Linked DNA regions of Homo sapiens: region 1 is linked to region 2. A link means that fine-mapping ties the variant in region 2 to the expression of a gene that starts in the linked region. Tissue or cell type: prefrontal cortex. Region 2 holds a variant in brackets; the other region holds the start of a gene. All regions are shown on one strand. Distances are between the middles of the regions.

Region 1 (2,683 bases), 59 kb before region 2:
CTCCATTTTTCCAGCCTGCTGAATCCAGAGTTGGAGGAGGTGGAGAAGGGAAGGGAGGAAGAAGGGCTCTGGCCCTGGCTTGCCCCACATTTTCTCTGTGGGCCCTGGGGTGACCACTTCGCTCCATGCCTCAGTTTCCCCATTTCTAATCTACCTTCTGCAGGCCGAACACCTGCATGGCTGACTTCCTGCTCACAGGATGGGGCAGGTAGTGGTGGTAGCTGCTGTAGGGGGTGGGGACGGGGTGGTGAGGGAAGTGGCATGCCCAGGTGATTGGGGGGACCAGCATCCTGGGACAACCCAGGGGTTGGGATCTGGGTTTAGTGTACCTGGTGTGTGTAGGAGCAGAGCCACCACCGGACCGAGTGTTGTGATGCACAGATGCTGGGGATGTGTACTCTAAGGGCATGAGCCGCCTGTTGGAGAACTGGTGATGCATGGATGGCTCTCTGTGGGCTGCCATGGTGTCTTGGGGTGAGGCTGCATCCCTAGACCAGCCCTGGGTCCTCTCTCCAGGGTCCACTGTCTCCCGGATCCTGGAGGAGGGGGAAGTTACCCTCTTCCATTGTCTCTCAATACAAGATGATTTGACCTCACTTGCCACTCCTCCCGGGCCCCTCCCATCTTGCCAGGGCCTGAATTTGGGCTCTTAGGTCCAGGCTACCGGGCCACCCTCAACACACACAACCCCTCTCAAACCCCAAAGACCCGGACACACTCAGCAGCCCCCTCCTCCACACGGTCCGCCGACCTCACCCAGCCCTCACTCCAGGCGGTCGCCCTCTCGCCCACGCAAGACCCCGCGTGCTGCAGCCTGTCGCGCCCTCGGAACCCGCCTGCGCGCGCCAGAGACCAGCTCCGCCTCGCCTCCCGGCGGATACAGGCCCACAACCCATAGCCCCGCGCCTCCCAGACCCCCAGACCCCCAGACCCTCCCTGGCCGCCAGCCCAGGGGCGGACGGCTCCTTCTCTCGCCTGGCGCAGGAGGCGCAGCAGCTGCCGGGCGCGCTCCGGCCGCCGCTCGCGGAGCGTGGACTGGATCTCGCGGAGCCACCGCACCCGGCGCTCGTAGGGCGCGGGCCCGCAGCCGGCCGCCGCCCCGGCCTCAGAGCCAGCCTCGGGCCCGGCCCGCCGGCCCAGCCGCGCCCCCATGGCCGCCGCGCGATGGTCGCCGAACCCACAGGAGGCCGGGCTGTCTGCGCCCCGCTCCCGGGGCCGCCCCTAGTCGCCCCGCCTCCAATCACCGCGGCCCTGCCCCGTCCGGGTCCGAAGGCTGAGCGCCCGCCCCACCCCGCGCCGGAGCGAGGCCAGTGGGTTCCTCGGTTTGGCCTGATCACACTGGAGGAGGCCCTGCTTGCGTCAGTCTTGGCGCTAGAACCCGAGGGCCTGGAGCCGCCAGGGGAGACGCGGAGCTCGGCCGAGACGAGGTGGCTTTTGGCACCTCTTTACCCTCTGGCCCCAGTGCTGACTGGGGAATAGTCGCTTTGACCGTGCAAAGAGCATTCTAGGCGGGGTGGGGGGGTTCTGCTGTGTGTGCCAGTGTTAGGTATTGCCCCCATTGCTTTTAGAAATATGCCCTGCATGGTGAATCTCCGTCTCTACTAAAATACAAAAATTAGGCCGGGCATGGTGGCTCACGCCTGTAATCCCAGCACTTTGGGGGGCCGAGGCAGGCGGAATCTAAGGTCAGGAGTTCAAGACTAGCCTGGCTAACATGGTGAAACCACATTTTTATTGAAAATACAAAAAATTAGCCGGGCGTGGTGGCGGGCGCCTGTAATCCCAGCTATTCGGGAGGTTGAGGTAGGAGAATCAATTGAACCTGGGAGGCGGAGGTTACAGTGAGCCGAGATGGCGCCACCGCACTCTACCCTGGGTGACAGAGCAAAACTCTGTCTCAAAAAAAAAAAAAAGAAAAGAAAAGAAATCTCTGCAGCTGGCAGTTGTGGTGTAGGACCTGCTCACGCTACATGGACACTCCTGCACTGGCAAATATTTACTGCCTCCTGCTTCTTGGTTTGGGGCAGGCCCCCACCTCTGACCCCAGCCTGGGAAATAAACCGGACGAAGAGTCAGGTTAACCGTTAAGCCCAGCTCTGGGCAAGCTGGCAGCAGGCGGGCTGTATCTGCCGCTGGCTTCAGTCTGCCTCCCTGACAAGGGGTGGGGGTGGCGGCAGGCAGAGTGAGATGGGGGCCCTGGCTCCTCTGAGGACCAGGGTGAGGTACGGACCCACCCAGCTCAAGGTGTATCCCACTTCCCAGGGCTCCCTCAGCAGAAGCCTAGGTCTCTGCTGCAGGCCTGCTGGGCCCCTGCAGCCCCAATCCCGGCTCTGGGACGCTCACATCTCCTGCGTGGGGAACGTTTGAGGCACTGATCTGCAGTTCCCACTTCTCTAAGCAAGGAGCACGTGTTTAGCCTGTGAGGACTGGTACCTGTTGTGCAGGAAGGGCTGAGCACTGTCCGAGGGCATATATGAGGGACGACAGCCAAGCACCCGTGTGTATGTGTGTGTGTGTGTGTGTGTGTGTGTGTGTGTGTCTGCTAATTACCCTATGAAGATTCAAGGTTCCTTCCTTTGGGTTAAGCACTGCCTGCCCAGAGATGGCAGTGGGGAGAGGGCAGGGTGCTAGGCTCTGTCATCCTGTGGGGCTGGGCCCCTGAGACAAGGCAGAGGACAGCAGG
Region 2 (2,683 bases):
AAAGGTCCCAGTCCATCTCCTGGAGGCGGACAGATGGCCTGGAAACCTCTGGCTAATCGGGCCATCTGTAGAGTGGGAATCAAGATTTTCTGAGGCATCCTTGGGCCACCCCCAGGTGTCAGGCCATCTGCCAAGAGACAGCGGCCCAAAGCAGAAGGACAGGTGGCCTGGGCAGATCCCGCCCAGGTCTGAAAGCCCCAGGCTGGCCTCAGACTGTGGGTTTTTTATGTGGCCACCCGAGGGCGCCCCAAGCCAGTTCATCTCGGAGTCCAGGCCTGGCCCTGGGAGACAGGGTGAAAGCAGTGGTTTTTATGAACTTAACTTATAGAGTCCAAAAGATTTCTACTGAATCACTTGTCAAGAAGCGCCCTCTCTGGGGAGAAGGGAACGTGACTGGATTCCCTCACTGTTGTATCTTGAATAAACGCTGCTGCTTCATCCTGTGGGGGCCGTGGCCCTGTCCCTGTGTGGGTGGGGCCTCTTCCATTTCCCTGACTTAGAAACCACACTCCACTTCTAACAGGGTTTGAGAGGCTTGGTCAGCACTGGGTAGCGTTTTGACTCCATTCTTGGCTTTCTTCTTTTTCTTTCCAGAAGGATTTTTGTGCAGAAATGGGTCTTTTGTTGCCGTGTTAGTCCTCCTTGGAAGGCAGCTCAGAAGGCCTGTGAAATGTCGGGGGACAGGACCCCCAGGGAGGGAATCCCAGGCTACGCACCTTAGGGTTCGTTCTCCAGGGAGAGCGACCTCGTCCCCCGATCCTGACCGCCCTTCCGGCCCACGCTCTCCTGTTTGGCTTCCACAGGCCTGGACTTCTCTGGCTTCTCTGCCCACACACTCCCTGCCCCCAGTGTCCCTGCCCCTGCCCCAGCACAGGTGACTTCATTTCTGTCCTCTCAGCTCAGTGGACTCGCTCATCTTTTGTATAAGTCTCCACTTGGTGGCAGCAGCTTGCTGATGACTTGTTTTAAAACTTTCATCCTAAATAACCTTTTGATACTTGAATATTTTTAAGTTTTATACATAGTTTCTAATTTTTTTCCGAACAGATCCAGATACCTAATAAGATGCTGGAATGTAATCCCTGGACAATCCGTGTCCTGGCAGCATTTGGTCTTCCTCTAAGCGCCTGGCTCCGCTGTTCTCAGGAGTGGGTTCTGAAGTCTCTGGAGAACAGGATACGTGGAGGGTTAGGAAGGGGCCAGGCCTAGAGACG[G/T]GAGACTCCCTCCCGGAGCAGGTGGAGGCACAGGACCATTCGCTACCCCATCTGCCGGCACCTGCGGGGGAGCCCAGGCATTCTTTGTAAGCCCTCCTGACCACCTGGCTCAAAGAAAACAGAAGCATGGAGGCCGCCAAGTATTTTCAAGAAATAATCCCATGAACATGGCATCACTTTTTTAGAAAGAGGGGCTTGGGGCAGGCAGAGGAGAGAAGGGAGATCAAACTGAGAGCCAAGTTTCCAGACGGTCCTGCAGGAGGAGAGGATGCAGCTGCCCAGAGGGAAGCAGGATCACATTTAAGGAAGTGTGTGGGGTCCCTGGATGACACCAGCACCCAGTGCGGCTCTGTCTGGCAACCGCTCCCAAGGTGGCAGGAGTGGGTGTCCCCTGTGTGTCAGTGGGCAGCTCCTGCTGAACCCACAGCTCACTGGGGAGCCTGACAGTGGGGCCATGTGCCTGACACTCCTCTCTGCTTGTGGACCTGGCAAGGCAGGGAGCAGAAAACAGAGCTACTTGAAGGCTTTCTGTCTGCGTCTGTGTGCAGTGTGGATTTAGTTGTGCTTTTTACTTGCTGGGAGAGCACAGCCACCATTTACAAGCAGTGTCACCCTCGTGGGTGGCGAGGACAGAACAGGAGCCTCTGCTCTCTGTACCTATCTGGGCCCGGTGGGCTCCCTTGTCCTGGCTTCCATCTCTGTCTCAGCGACCATTCAGCCCTGCACAGGAACACATGTTGCTTAGAAAAGCCAAATCCAGCCCTTGTCTCTGCCTCCTCTGGTCTCATGATGTGCATCTGTTACCTTGAAACTGGAAACCAGTCTATCAATGTCTGTGCCAATTTTTTATTCCCTCCCCAACCTCCTTCCCCATACGACTTTTTATTTATGTAGGATGTGTGCTGTCTAATGATGGGATGACCACACTTTTCCATGTTCTAAAAGTGCTCCTCTCCCACAGGGTCCCAGGGCTGGTGGTTGCTTTGGGTCTACAGCTACGTCTTACCCGCCTCCTGCCTCAACAGCCTGTGTGGTGGCAAAGCCGGTGTGGGGCTGGGGAACGCAGCGTTCTCCAGGAGGGGACCCGGCTCTCCTTCTGCAGTGCAGGCGAAGGCCTAGATGCCAGTGTGACCTCCCACAAGGCGTGGCTTCCAGACTCCCCGGCCGGAAGTGATGCTTTTTTGCCGCGGGCCCTGGGTTTGAAGCAGCCTGGCTTTCTCTTGGTAAGTGGCTGGTGTCTTAGCAGCTGCAATCTGAGCTCAGCCACCTACACACCACCGTGGCCGACACTTTCATTAAAAAGTTTCCTGAGACGACTTGCGTGCATGTTGACTTCATGATCAGCGCCGCTGGGAAGAACCCCAGAGCCGGTGGGGTGGGGCTGGAAGCAGCAGGTGCAGTGATAGGGCTGGGTGCCCAGGAGGCCTCAGTGCTCAATCAGGCCAAGGTGGCCAAGCCCAGGCTGCAGG

Which allele goes with the higher level. Positions count from the first base shown, and alleles are read on the strand shown. Sizes are in standard deviations (SD) of each study's normalised expression.
For the expression in prefrontal cortex of the gene that starts at base 1,186 in region 1, G is the low allele of the variant in region 2 and T is the other (moderate effect, 0.46 SD a copy in ROSMAP).

The links. PIP is the estimated chance that this variant, and not a neighbour inherited with it, causes the effect.
Region 1: LRRC75B starts here. The variant in region 2 is the best candidate, but not a certain one, in a credible set for the expression of LRRC75B in prefrontal cortex (ROSMAP, PIP 0.82).

What each region holds. Positions count from the first base shown.
Region 1 is chr22:24,591,888-24,594,570 of GRCh38, forward strand. LRRC75B (leucine rich repeat containing 75B) reads right to left here and starts at 1,186. Exons shown (of 4, transcript NM_207644.3): 1 at 976-1,186. The coding sequence starts at 1,152. It also overlaps a transcript of GGT1 not described here. RefSeq lists enhancers at 1-606, 607-1,599, 2,649-2,683 and a silencer at 1,084-1,313.
Region 2 is chr22:24,650,831-24,653,513 of GRCh38, forward strand. It overlaps the pseudogene BCRP3 and the pseudogene POM121L10P. Among named protein-coding and RNA genes, the nearest start is that of GGT1, 49 kb to the left of the region's middle. RefSeq lists an enhancer at 26-793. The variant G/T (reference allele first, on the strand shown) is at 1,215.